Homo sapiens: one gene and its partners. The gene in region 3 interacts genetically with the main gene of each other region. Each region holds a gene or a part of one and is shown on either strand. Other genes may lie near its edges.

The links. A genetic interaction does not mean that the proteins touch.
Region 1: changes in TRPC6 (region 3) and ALG5 together harm fitness less than expected from each alone (positive genetic interaction), as found in Homo sapiens cells (one large-scale study listed by BioGRID).
Region 2: changes in TRPC6 (region 3) and METAP2 together harm fitness less than expected from each alone (positive genetic interaction), as found in Homo sapiens cells (one large-scale study listed by BioGRID).
Region 4: changes in TRPC6 (region 3) and UBE2G2 together harm fitness less than expected from each alone (positive genetic interaction), as found in Homo sapiens cells (one large-scale study listed by BioGRID).

The regions. Positions count from the first base shown.
Region 1 is NC_000013.11:36,951,790-36,954,340, forward strand, and holds part of ALG5 (dolichyl-phosphate beta-glucosyltransferase), read right to left. Parts: intron 811-2,551; coding exon 725-810; intron 1-724. UniProt on the Homo sapiens protein: Dolichyl-phosphate beta-glucosyltransferase that operates in the biosynthetic pathway of dolichol-linked oligosaccharides, the glycan precursors employed in protein asparagine (N)-glycosylation.
Region 2 is NC_000012.12:95,505,152-95,508,651, reverse strand, and holds part of METAP2 (methionine aminopeptidase 2), read right to left. Parts: intron 1-3,500. UniProt on the Homo sapiens protein: Cotranslationally removes the N-terminal methionine from nascent proteins. The N-terminal methionine is often cleaved when the second residue in the primary sequence is small and uncharged (Met-Ala-, Cys, Gly, Pro, Ser, Thr, or Val).
Region 3 is NC_000011.10:101,504,008-101,507,507, reverse strand, and holds part of TRPC6 (short transient receptor potential channel 6), read left to right. Parts: intron 1-2,709; coding exon 2,710-3,484; intron 3,485-3,500. UniProt on the Homo sapiens protein: Forms a receptor-activated non-selective calcium permeant cation channel. Probably is operated by a phosphatidylinositol second messenger system activated by receptor tyrosine kinases or G-protein coupled receptors.
Region 4 is NC_000021.9:44,799,021-44,803,290, forward strand, and holds the start of UBE2G2 (ubiquitin-conjugating enzyme E2 G2), read right to left. Parts: upstream 2,801-4,270; 5' UTR 2,729-2,800; coding exon 2,686-2,728; intron 2,379-2,685; exon of another isoform or gene 2,264-2,378; intron 1-2,263. UniProt on the Homo sapiens protein: Accepts ubiquitin from the E1 complex and catalyzes its covalent attachment to other proteins. In vitro catalyzes 'Lys-48'-linked polyubiquitination. Involved in endoplasmic reticulum-associated degradation (ERAD).

The sequences.
Region 1 (2,551 bases), on a different chromosome or scaffold from region 3:
GTTATTTATTTTTTCAGATGGAGTTTCACTCGTTGCCCAGGCGGGAGTGCAATGGTGCAATCTTGGCTCACCGCAACCTTTGCCTCTCGGGTTCAAGCAATTCTTCTGCCTCAGACTCCTGACTAGCTGGGATTACAGGTGCCTGACACCACGCCCGGCCATCTTTTTGTATTTTTTAGTAAAGACGGGGTTTCACCCTGTTGGCCAGACTGGTCTTGAACTCCTGACCTTAGGTGATCCACCCCCTCGGTCTCCGAAAGTGCTGGGATTACAGGCATGAGGCATGGTGCTCGGCCATAAAAAAAATTTTTATTTCTTATTTAGCTTTGCATAGTGGTTTGCAGGTACCTAATTAATATCCACCTAGTGATAAAAAAAATATAGGAAATGGTGATGCAAAAAATAAATTTATCTATCTCAAAAGACTATCAACCTTCTAATTTCAGATCACCATGACTTTGTCTATTGTAGGAAGTTTTATTGAAGTTTCTTCGACAAGGTAGTAGGCCTACTGAAGGCCCCATGAACAGACAAAAAATATAAAAGGCAGCAAGCCAGATGGAAGGTATTAGTAGGTACTATTCTCCTTGGAACTGGATCTTTGAGTCAAGACAGCTGAGAAGGGCTTGATGAGGGGAGCAAGGAGAACATTAAAGCCAGCTGACTTTACTAAACAACTGTATTATCTGACTCAAGACAATCATACAATAAACAATATACTCACCTTCAATTTCTGTCCAGTTGACAGCAATTTCTGCTATTGGAATTTTAAAGAACTGTGCTATGTACAGTAGTTCTACATCAAATGCCCTAAAATAGAAAATATATTGATATTTATTTTTAAAGACAAATAGAACACAACTACATCTCTACCTTGGCATGTTTTAAAGAAGCTTACATGGCAGATATAAAGCTTATACCATAAATCTGAAGATCAGATTCACAGAAATCAAATAATTCAAAGCTGAGTAGTTCAGAAGTTTCAAGTCAAATAATAATTTAGAATATCATTGCATAATATTGTATCTCTATTACAACTCAGAAACTCACAGAGGTAAAACTAGCCTCATGGGTTCCAAGAAAAAATTTAATCCTGGAAAATTTCAAGATTGATGGTTTTCAATCCTAACCTTAACTGGACTAGCTCAAGGTAAAGAACTGACATTTTCAACTGATTCAGACAGCTGATAAAACAAAACTCTGAGATGCTCTAGTTGAGACTGTTTTACATTACTTTAGAGTTGGTTGCCTATTTTCTTCTACCATCAGAGGATCCAGATTACTTTTCTAATAGTGTCCCCAGGGCCTTCCTTGTCTTTTCTGTTCCCCTTCCCTGTGGTGTCCTGCACAATATAATACTGGCAACTATTGAAAGTAAAAAGCTACTTTGGACTAGTCTGAAATACTCTTTGGGTATAATTAATACATACATAGGAATCTGATATATTGTCTTACTTGTCCTAATATATACTGTTAAAACCATTTCCAGTCTAAATCTCCAGTGTATCCTTCCTTCCACTTACGAAAGGTCTTTCTTAAAGCCTCTTTTCAGTCAGTGCCTTGGCTTAGGTCAAACCTGCTTTCCTTAAAGGTTCTGAATCCTGACTCATAAGTTTTCCTGGATTCTGCTTACAAAATTTCTCTGAACTAGTTGCTTCTCTCACTGGTATTAAAGCTCAGGAAGAAAAGCACTACTACCTGTTAAATCTTCTTCATCGTCATTGAAACTGTCTAAAGTCCTTGACTGTTTTGCCTTCATCCATGAGTCAGTCCCCACTTTCTAGGCTGCACAGAGCACAGTTCAAACTTCTAGGGCCTGGTGTAAAACATTATTAATACAGACAAGAAAATGCCTAAAGTCCACTTATATTTGATTTCTCCAATCCCAGACAACTTGAATTTGGGAGATTTTTTGGTTTTTTGCCACAATACCATAATCATCCATTAGGTAAATAGTTTAAATTCCAAGTATTATGATAAAACCACTTACAAAAGTGGGTTGTATTTTAAAACTTTCGTCCCCTAGAATTGTGATACTTATGAAAAAAGAAATAATTTCAATATTAAGCCTGGTGCTTTACCCTTAACTTTCCTTTTAACACAAAAACAAAATATTAGCTAGTGGGCTGAGTTAGTTCTAATGATACTTGATAACCTGAAAAAGATTATTATATATTATTTCTAAGGATATCAGTATATAGCTAGTGACTTATCAAATACACAAAACAATTGAGTAAAAAAGAGTGGGGTGGTTAACTGAAATCACCTTATATTAAAAAAAAAATCCTAGACCAAAAGGGTTTTTCGGTTTGTTTTAAACAGGGTCTTACTCTGTCATCCAGGCTGGAATGCAGTGGCGCAATCAGGGCTCACTGCAGCCTCAACCTCCCTGGACTCAGGTGATCCTCCCACCTTTGCCTCCTGAACATCTGGGAGCATAGGCCCAGATATTCCTTACTAGTCCTATAATTTTATCTTCTTCTTTTCTAGTTTTGTTCTTTTGAGATTTCCTCAATTTTATTATCTAGCCCTCTTTTTGAATTTTCATCTC
Region 2 (3,500 bases), on a different chromosome or scaffold from region 3:
AAGACATTGGTATATGTTGGCTAGTGTTGGAATTTACAAAAATTTCAGCAAATTCTCAAAAAAGAGAAATAACTAACTCTAGAGGTAGTCCCCCAAGCAGACTGCTACAGTGTGTACTCCAAGTTGACATAAGACTCACGAATTTGGAAATAGATTCTGTTCATTTGTAGCAGTGAACCTAGAAATCAGAAGGCCCATGTTCTAGTCCCATAAATTCCTCAAATTAACTTGGCATTTATGCTCTTAATCTCAGCTTTCTTTGGGTTAAGAATCTTGCTTCTGGGGAGCTCATAAAGTGTTAATAGAAGCAGCAACTCCTAAAACTGGTTCTAAGCTATTTAAAGAACTGGACAAAACATTTTCCAAAGAAAAGCACACTGGAAATGAGATCTTCTAAATTCTAGCCTTTAAAAATCTTTTGCTTTCCTTATGGCTTTGGCTAGGATACAAAGAAAAGTATGTTTACCCTTACTAAGGAACATAGTAAATTTAAATCATGTCTTAATGTAAAAATAAATTGTAAAAATTTCACATAACAGTAAGTAAAAGCCAAAAGTAGAATATGTGAATCGGCTGGGTGCGGTGCCTCACGCCTGTAATCCCAGACTTTGGGAGGCCGAGGCAGGCAGATCACCTAAGGTTGGGAGTTCAAGACCGCCTGACCAACATGGAGAAACACCACATCTACTAAAAAAAAAAAAAAAAAAAAAATTGCTGGGCGTGGTGGCGCATGTAATCCCAGCTACTCGGGAGGCTGAGGCAGGAGAACTGCTTGAACCTGGGAGGCGGAGGTTGTGATGAGCCGAGATCGCGCACCATTGTACTCCAGCCTGGGCAACAAGAGCAAAAGTCTCTCTCAAAAAAAAAAAAAAAATCATGAGAATCATGGAAGGTTATCTAATGCTATGATTTTTATTCTCCTCCACATGTGCTTTCACACTGAGAGGAGCCACTAGGGGAAAGGCTGAGTATGTAGAGAAAAGGCGTAATAAGGTGGTATCTCAAAGGAGGTGGAGGATTAACACTGAAAAGAAGATCCTTAACGCAGTGTTTGAGCTAACAATTTAAAAAAATTTTAAAGAAAATACTGTATAGAAGACAGAATATTTCTTCCTTGAAGAACAGAGATAAAAACATAAGAATAGGGAGAAGATGGGCAAATCCCGGCATTTGCCAATCCTGGTATTTTGCCATGTTCTTTATGCAACGTGGAAAAAATGTTAAAGAGTGTTAGGCTTGTTTGGCTATTTTTCTCATCAGGTAAGTAATTTCCTGGATGCGAAGAGCGATTTGGAAGAGCCTGAATAAGCACTGTATTTGTGGCACTAATCCCAGAATTGGGGTGAGAAGGGGACAGAATGACAAATATTTGTTGAATACTTAATAAATTCCAGGCACTATCACACAATTTACATTTCTCAAAATAAACTAGATACCATTAACCCTACTACAGTCAAGAAACTTGGGTATTCAGGTTACAGATTTATCTAAGACTCCAAGTAAAAACTGCCTGAACCCCAAAGTGTGTTTTCTTCATTATCCCACACCTCCTACCTAAGTGTGAGTAACATCAAGAGTATTCTGGGCCGGGTACAGTGGCTCACGCCTGTAATCCCAGCACTTTAGGAGGCCAAGGTGGGCAGATCGCCTGATCTGGCCAACATGATGAAGCCCCATCTCCACTAAAAAAAAAAGTCCAAAAATTAGCCAGCATGATGACACACACCCGTAATCCCAACTACTCGGGAGGCTGAGCTTATAGTGATCCAAGACTGCACCACTGCTCTCCAGCCTGGGTGACAGAACGAGTAAGACTCTGTCTCAATAAATAAATAAATAAATAAATAAATAAATAAGTATTCTGCTTTGCACTTGTGTTCACAGGATTAGAGATCTTAAAGAGAATATCTGAAAATCAAATAACAAAGAAGTTAAAGATATAGATGAGAGAAGAATTAAAGCTGCCAACACAGGGTCTAGGCAGGAGGAAGGGAAATGAAACCTTGAAGAACAATGAAATGGAAGAATATCTTGATATCAAAAAACATATATAGGCTGGGCACGGTGACTCATGCCTGTAATCCCAGCACTGTGGGAAGCCGAGGCGGGCGGATCATGAGGTCAAGAGATTGAGACCATCCTGGCAAATATAGTGAAACCCCGTCTCTACTAAAAATACAAAAATAAATTAGCTGGGTGTAGTGGCGCATGCCTGTAATCCCAGCTACTTGAGAGGCTGAGGCAGAAGAATCGCTTGAACCCGGGAAGCGGAGGTTGCCGTGAACCAAGATTGCGCCACTGCACTCTAGCCTGGGCGACAGAGTGAGATTGCGTCTCAAAAAAAAAAAAAAAAAAGCATATATATTAGAAATAAAAATAAATATTTTTTAAAAAATACAAAAATTAGCCAGGTATGATACTGTACATCTGTAGTCCCAGCTACTCGGGAAGCTGAGCGCACTCCACCGAGTGCTTGAGCAAGGGGGTTGGGCTGCAACCGTGCCACTGCACTCCAGCCTGGACAACAGAGGAAGACTCTTTTTTATTTTTTTCCCCAGACGAAGTCTCACTCTGTCGCCCAGGCTGGAGTGCAATGGTGCAATCTTGACTCACTGCAACCTCTGCCTCCTGGCTTCAAGTGATTCTCCTGCCTCAGCCTCCCGAGTAGCTGAGATTACAGGTGTGTGCCATCACGCCTGGCTATTTTTTTTTTGTATTTAGTAGAGACGGGGTTTTACCATGTTGGCCAGGCTGGTCTCAAACTCCTGACCTCAGGTGACCCACCCACTTTGGCCTCCCAAAGTTTTGGGATTACAGGCGTGAGCCACCACGTCTGGCAGACTCTGTCTAAAAAAAGAGTTGGGCACGGTGGCTCATGCCTGTAATCCCAGCACTTCGGGAGGCCGAGGTGGGCGGATCACCTGAGGTCTGGAGTTCGAGACCAGCCTGGCCAACATGACAAAACCCCGCCTCTACTAAAAATACAAAAAGCAGCCAACTATGGTGGCACACGTCTGTAATCTCAGCTACTCAGGAGGCTGAGGTAGGAGAATGGCTTGAATGGCTCGAACCTGGGAGGCAAAGGTTGCAGTGAGCCGAGATCGTGCCACTGCACTCCAGCCTGGGTGACAGAGCAAGACTCCATCTCAAAAAAAAAAATTTGGCCGGGCGTGGTGGTGGGCACCTGTAATCCCAGCTAATGAGGAGGCTGAGGCAGAATCGCTTGAACCCAGGAGGCAAAGGTTGCAGTGAGCCGAGATTGCATCATTGCATCCCAGCCTGAGCAACAGAGCGAGAGACTGTCTCAAAAAAAAGTTTAAGTCTGGTAATAAATTTCAGTATTTAGACATGAAAGAGGACTGTTACGTTGGTGGTAACTGTCTATATAGAAGGCACGGTCAGGTTCCAGAGGAAGAATCACTTCTGCTCTTGGTAGAAACACATAATGGGCAACAGGAAATGCAAAGAATGCTGAATGGTGTGAATTTACTAAGAGGCAA
Region 3 (3,500 bases):
CAAAGAAGTCAACTCAGATAAAAGAAGATCTGGGATACAGAAAACAAGGACCCCAATACAAAAGCAAAGTGAAGAGAATCCTTGGAATGATACCAAAGGAAGATTCAAAGAGAACATACATGCATCAAGTCTAGACAGCAACTGCTGTCTAGATTTTCCAAAATTGAAAAAAAAAAATACCCACTTAATATGTAGAATGTATTAAAATAAGACTTATATTGATGGAGAAGAGAGTTTGATTGAATTAGTCATATGTATATAGAGCACTGAGAAAATGAAGAGAATTTTTATCTATTAGGTTTAAGGTTATAGGGAAGCTGTACCTGAAAAGACACTATAGTATACCACTTAGCTATGATTAGCACTTGCATTGTCATGTTTTAAACAGTAAATAGTTATCTAAAAAAAAGTCATGATATAACAATTCTGGAATGATAAGGGACCATGAAGGGGGTCTGTGTGTGTGTGTGTGTGTGTGTGTGTGTGTGTGTGTGTGTGTGTTAGAGAGAGAGAGAGATACGTGAAGGTATGGTGTAATGGGAAGTCCATAGGTAATGCCAAACCTGAAAAATCAAGAAGTAACAATATAACCAAAGCTATGTGGTTATAACATTTAAAATTATAAAATAACCAGCTAAAATAGTTAAATTGAAATGTATCACCTCTGGAGATCAAGACATAGAATAAACTAAAATATGCACATGTATAACTTTACTAAAATTAAAAATGGAATTAAAAACAAAGTAATAGCTATGGGACAAAATAGTTACAGATGCTATTCTCTTATAATAAAAGTTGCATATGTATTATCTAATGACCCATTTTAGAAATTATTAGGTTGTATAACTTGATATCGGCCCTTCATGTCATTTTCGAAACTTACAAAGTTGTCTCTTTGAAAAAAACATCAGTTTGGTTGATTTTGAATAGGACTTGGATAGTTAAAGGAATCACTGTTGAATGAAAATCTATGAAAAATATTTGTCAATATGGTGGTATACTCTTCAAGCTCCTCCAAGAAGCAAAATCTGTTTGTGAGTTGCTGAAACTTTACTATCTTCCTTTCTATTCCTGTCCATCACACTGCCACAGACAGCACTGTCTGGAGATGTGGAATCAAGACTGATAAAGGCCAGTAGGGAAAGCAACTAAGATTCTCCAGACCTGAACATATTGGAGGGAAAGATAGCTTATGAGGCCCTTGGATCTTTTTATTGTCCTCTTTATACTGGGAAGTTTGTGACCGTTTTTAAAGAGGGATGCCTCTTTAGCCTCCCCTATAACCTGGCCCTGTTCCAGTTCTGCAAAAACATGCCTTCTTTGGGTTCAGTTAGTGATACTGGTAAGAGTTGAACCTCTAATTGTAATGAGATCCCTTGAAGCTCAAAAGACCTTAAGACACGAAGTTATGAATTAATAACGAAAAAATCTTCATTATAGCATTTTGATCAGAGGAAGAATCACAGCCCCCTTCCTTTTTTTTTTTTTTTTTCTTTGATATAGGATCTTGTTCTATCACCCAGGCTGGAGTGCAGAGGCATAGTCATGGCTCTCTGCAGCCTTGATCTCCTGGGTTCAATTGATACTCTACCTCAGCCTCCTGAGTAGCTGGGACTACAGGCATGTGCCACCATGCACCACTAATTTTTCTATTATTTGCAGAGATGGGGTTTTGCCATGTTGTCCAAGCTAGTCTTGACTTCCTGGGCAAGTGATTCGCCCACCTTGGCCCTGCAAGGTCCTGGGATTATAGGCGTGAGCCATAGCACCCGGCTCACTTTCCCTTCTTATCACAGATTGAAGGACTACGTTGAAGGCTGGCCACTGCTCTGACCACTGCCTGCACCATAGAAGTGTTTTTTCCTACCTGACAACTTGATTATAATTTTCTCCAGTCTGCAGTGATTTTTAGGACAGCAGAGTTCAAGCATTTATTGCCCATATTAATGAAACCTATACTCTAACATCTAGCCGATACCTCTGCTAGAGAAAACTTTCTACCTATACCTAACCCCTGTCTCACCCTCCTGAAGTACACTCTCACCTGACTTCTACTTATCCTTCCATTTTCAGCTTGTCATTTTCTCTCAGAATCTGGGATAGATGCCCCATTATAGGCTTATCATTATAATTAAGCAGCTGATAACAAAGCAGTATGCTGATTGCCCATCTCTCTCTTTGGTCTATAAGACTTGTAGAGGCAGGAAAAAGCATCTATTTGTTTTTTCACTATTGGCCTTCTTGGACCGAATATAGTTCCTAGACCTGGCATCAGAGGGACTCAATAAATATTTGTTAACTTGAGTGGATTTGCTATTGTCTCTACTTCTTAAAATGTAGTCTTATATTCTCTATCACATTGTGACTGCATATGGATAAGAGGGTATGGATATAGACATCTTTCCTAAGTCTATACCATCTATATAGTACATTAGTTTCTATCTGAATGGCACAGAGTAATTATGGCAATTGCTAGTCTCCACCCCAAATGGGAATGTTAAAATCTGCAAAGTGCTTGGCTTTCTTAGACGTGAAGTTCTTGGAATCCATTAACAAATAAATGCATCTTCATTTTATAATATAGTAGGTCTAGAGATGATGAGACAACATCTAATATACTTGAGGATTGTATTAGATGAATGGCAAGTCATTTGGCACACTAAAATGCTCTTAATGTGATTTGTTTACAATCTTTCTGTTTTATTGCAGCCGGGGATCTGACAACAGACTGGCTCACCGGCGGCAGACAGTTCTCCGTGAGAAGGGGAGAAGGTTAGCTAATCGAGGACCAGCATACATGTTTAGTGATCGCTCCACAAGCCTATCTATAGAGGAGGAACGCTTTTTGGATGCAGCTGAATATGGTAACATCCCAGTGGTGCGGAAGATGTTAGAAGAATGCCACTCACTCAACGTTAACTGTGTGGATTACATGGGCCAGAATGCCCTACAGTTGGCAGTGGCCAATGAGCATCTGGAAATTACAGAACTTCTTCTCAAGAAAGAAAACCTCTCTCGAGTTGGGGATGCTTTGCTTCTAGCTATTAGTAAAGGTTATGTTCGGATTGTGGAAGCAATTCTCAGTCATCCGGCTTTTGCTGAAGGCAAGAGGTTAGCAACCAGCCCTAGCCAGTCTGAACTCCAGCAAGATGATTTTTATGCCTATGATGAAGATGGGACACGGTTCTCCCATGATGTGACTCCAATCATTCTGGCTGCCCACTGCCAGGAATATGAAATTGTGCATACCCTCCTGCGGAAGGGTGCTAGGATTGAACGGCCTCATGATTATTTCTGCAAGTGCAATGACTGCAACCAGAAACAGAAGCATGACTCGTTTAGCCACTCCAGATCTAGGATTAATGCCTATAAAGGCCTGGCAAGTCCGGCTTACCTGTCATTGTCTAGTGAAGATCCAGTCATGACGGCTTTAGAACTTAGCAATGAACTGGCAGTTCTGGCCAATATTGAGAAAGAGTTCAAGGTAGGTCACTAACAAT
Region 4 (4,270 bases), on a different chromosome or scaffold from region 3:
CCATCAGAGCTCTTGAGTGACCAGGTGCACTGTCAGGAATAGTATTTTGAAGATAATCTTTTTTTCTGAGCAGTAGGTCTCAACAGTGGGCTTATATTCAGTAAACCATGCTGTACACAGATGTGCTGTCATCCAGGTTGTTTTTCCATCTCTAGAGCTCAGAGTAGATTTAGCATAATTTTTAAGGGCCCTAAGATTTTCTGAATGATAAATGAGAACTGGCTTCAACTCAGTCAACTTAAAGTGACCGACATTAGCCCCTAACAAGAGTCGCCCTGTCCTTTGAAGCCAGTCATTGACTTCTCTCTAGCTGTTTACGTTGTATATGGCATCATCTCCTCCCAATACCGTATAAGGCTATTTTACGTACCTTGTAAATCTATTGCTTAATTTAGGAGCCACTTTCATCTTGATCTTAGCTAGATCTTCTGGAGACCTTGCTGCTTCACCTTGTGCTTTTCTGTTATGGAGACAGGTTATTTACTTCAATCTCATGAACCAACCTCTGTTAGCTCCCAATTTTTCTTCTGCAGCTTCCTCACTGCTCTCAGCCTTCATAAAACTGAAGAGTTAGGACCTTGCTCTGGATTAGGCTTTGGCTTAAAGGAATGTTATGGCTGGTTTGATCTTCTATCCAAACCACTAAAACTTTCTCCATATCAGCAGTAAGGCTTTTTCACTTTATCATTCATTGTGTTCAACAGAGCAGCACTTCTAATTTCCTTTAAGAACTTTTCCTTTGCATTCACAACTTGGCTAACAAGAGACCCAGCTTTCAGCCTATCTTGACTTTCAACATTCCTTCCTCACTAAACTTAATCATTTCTAGCTTTTGATTTGAAGTGGGTAGAGTGCAACTCTTCACTTCAACACTTGAGCCCACTGTACAGTTACTATTGGCCTAATTTCAATGTTGTTTTGTCTCAGGGAAGAGAGAGGCCGGGAGAGAGATGGGGAAACAGCCAGTCAGTGAAGCACACACAACATTTATTAGGACTACCATCTTTTATGGGCATAGTTTGTGATGCCCCAAAATAATTACAATAGTAACATCAAAGATTACTGATCATAGATCACAGTAATAGATTAAAATGTAAGAGAGAGACACGAAGCGAGCAAAAATGGTGCCAACAGACTTGCTTCCATGCAGGGTTGCTTGTAAAAAACTTGTAAACTTGTAAAAAATGCAAGATCTGCGAAGTGAAGCTCAATAAAGCAAAGCGCGCGGGAAACTGAGGTGTGCCTTTATGTTCTGCTTTAGCAGACACTAGGTGGCGAGCGTTATTTGAACGTTTACAGGAGGCCCTGTGTATCTGCGGCTGCATATCCATGGATTCGACCAACCAGGAATACAAAATATTTGAAAAAAATAACAATAAAAAATGACGATTTAAAAATACAAGTAAAAAAAATCAGTGTAACTATTTGTGCAGCACTTACATTGCATTAGGTACTATAAGTAACCTTGAGATGATTTAAAAGTTATGAGAGGCTATGCATACATTAAATGCAAATACCACGCCACCTTATAGTAGGGACTTGAGCATCCGAGGATTCTGGTATCTGCAGCGGGGCCTGGAACCAATCCCCTCCAGATACCAAGGGAAGAATGACCATACGTGAGTGAGCCTGTATTTGCAACGTTTTGGTCTGCTTAAGCCAAACATCAACTCTTACTGGGCGGTGTCACCAATAGTTTTACGAAATCAAGCTACATGTATATTCACCACTTATTTTTTTTCTCACATTCATTCTTTTAGCTTAACTTTCTTCCAAAATTATCCTCAATCTAATTACAAAAGCAGCAGCTAACTTTATTAAGGGTTACACATCAGGTATTTTGCTAAGCACTTCACCTGCAGTATCAAGTTTAACCTTTTAAGACAAGGAAACTGCAGAGACAGAGAGAGGAACAAGGTCAAAGAGCTAACAAGCAGAGAGGCCGGGTCTGAACTCAGGCCCTGCTCTTAGCCGGCTACTATCTCGTCTCCATCGGCGACTCAGGCTCCTGGCGCTTTCAACACAATGGTATTCCAAGACTTCTCGCAGCAGTTCTTCCAAGCGGGCATTCGGTGTAAAACGATGGAATGCCGAGTGTTCCTAGGTTCTCATTTCTCCCTTCGCTCTCCTCAGACATTAGAAATATCTAATTTACCGGGTAGGAAAGCACTCAAGAGGTTTCCTCAACACTACCTAGGAGGAGTGACAGGTGGCACTGTTCAAAAACCCTTTTCCTTCATTAGAGGGAAAGCCAAAATCTGACCTTTCAAAGCTCCACCAACGAGCCTTTCCCCTTTTAACGCATACACTTTTCCCTCCTAATTCCGCAGCAGCAAGTCAGGCCTTCTTCCTCAAGCTCTCACTGCACGTTCTCAAGGCTGCCAAGAAAAGAAAAAATAGAAGAGAAAAAAACAAGCCCGCAAAGACTCAACTGTGTGTGCTCTCAACTAACACGGCGCCGGCGCTGCCTTTACTGATGCTGGGAAGGCTTCTCTTCACGACTTCACGCGTGAGAGTGGGCAGCGGGCGCAGGGCGCGGCACTCCGCGGGACCCACAGGGGGGCTCACGGTGGAGGCCCCGGGCCCGGCTCCCCCGCCAGGCTCCCTGCCCCAGCCCCGCCGGACGACGCGGGCCCGGGAGCAGGAACGCGGGACGCTGCTGACGGCCCGGGTCCCCAGACTCACGTTTGTACTCGGCCATCAGCCTCTTGAGCGCGGTCCCCGCCATGGCCCCGCAACAGCTGCGCCGAGCGACCTCGCCTCAGCCGCGCGCGTGCCTCCTGCCCCGACACCGGGGACTGCTTCCGGGCCACCGTCGCGGGCCCAGGAACTCTTCCGGGGCGTGGCGCGTGCGCGATCGCCGAGGCGCGCTGTCCGGGTGGTGGGAGCTCAACCCGCGACCGCGGCTACGATTCTCTTGGCTCCTGCCCTCGCCTTAGTCGCTCTGCGGGGTTGGTTCGGTCCCGGCACTTCCAGAGGCCTCAGGGTCCTGGTCTTGTAGAGACTTCCTGAACGGTGGCGCCTGTTCCAGTGTGTGTGCGCTAACTGCCTGTTCTGTGCCAGCCGCGCGTGGCCGAAGGGCGGGAGGACGGGGGTTGTGGAGGGGAGGATGGAGGTTGGGGAGACAGGGCGGGGACGAGATAAGAGGTCGGGGGGTGGGGAGGATGGTCGCGGGGCGGTCTGGGGCTGGAGACAAGGGGCCTGAGGTGCGGGTACGCACTGAACATTCCAACCGTCCCCAGCCGGCCGGGTTTCAGGTTTGAAAAGGTGGGAAGGTTAGCTGTCCTGGCGCTTTTCCTCCACGTGTTGTGCGGCTCCGCTGGAGTTCGGGTCCAGCACCTTCTACTCCGAGGGAGAGAGCCGCGGGGAGAGCCCTGTTCGGGCCCGCGGCTCGAACTGACCGCCGGCTCTGCCGAGCAGCCTCGACCCCAGGGCACCCCCGGGAGAGAGGGCGCGGCTCAGGTCCCTGCCCGAACCCCTGGGGTGCTGAGAGACTCCCCAGCGCCCCGCGTGGGCTCCCGGCCTCTCCACAGTTGAGGATCCTGTAAGGGGCGAGCCCTTTTTCCCATAATGGCTGTAGTGAGTGGGTGTGCTTTCCCGATTGACCCGCTGTGAGGTGAGCGATTTTAACCCACATCCTTACTGACTTCACAGCACAGTAGGTGCTTCGTGGCTGTCCGGTGCAAGGATGTATATACACACACACCTTTGCAAAAAAAGTTTGCATCTCTTGCCTGGCTGTTTGTTGCAATAATCTATCATTTGTCTTTTCCTTTCCAGCATTGCAGATGATCCCTTGAAAAGAAGTCTGATCACATTCACACTCTGCTCCGCCCATTTCACTCAGTAAAGCTGAAGTCCTGCAGTGCTTTGCTCTGCCTCCGGTCACCCCGCCATACTCCCAGACCCTCCCTCCCTCTCACTCCACTCCAGCTGCCCTGGCCTGGTTCAGAGTCCCTGACTCTTCCCTCCCCGGAAACACTTTCTGGCGGCTCTTGTCCCCGACTCTTCCCACCTGCTCTTTCAGTCTTTGCTCAAATGTTGCCTCTTCAGTGTGGCCTAGGCCGTCACCACCCGGCCTTCACCGCATACCTTTTTCTCTGCAACACCTACTCAACACACCGTACTATAGAACTTACTGGCATGCTATAAATGTATTACCCTTATCTGTTGCCTCTAACCAAAAGCGTGTTCCATGAGAGCCATGGGTCCCTGCCTACTTCTGTCTTGTTTCTGGGGCAGCCTCTGTACCTGGACATCGTATACTCTT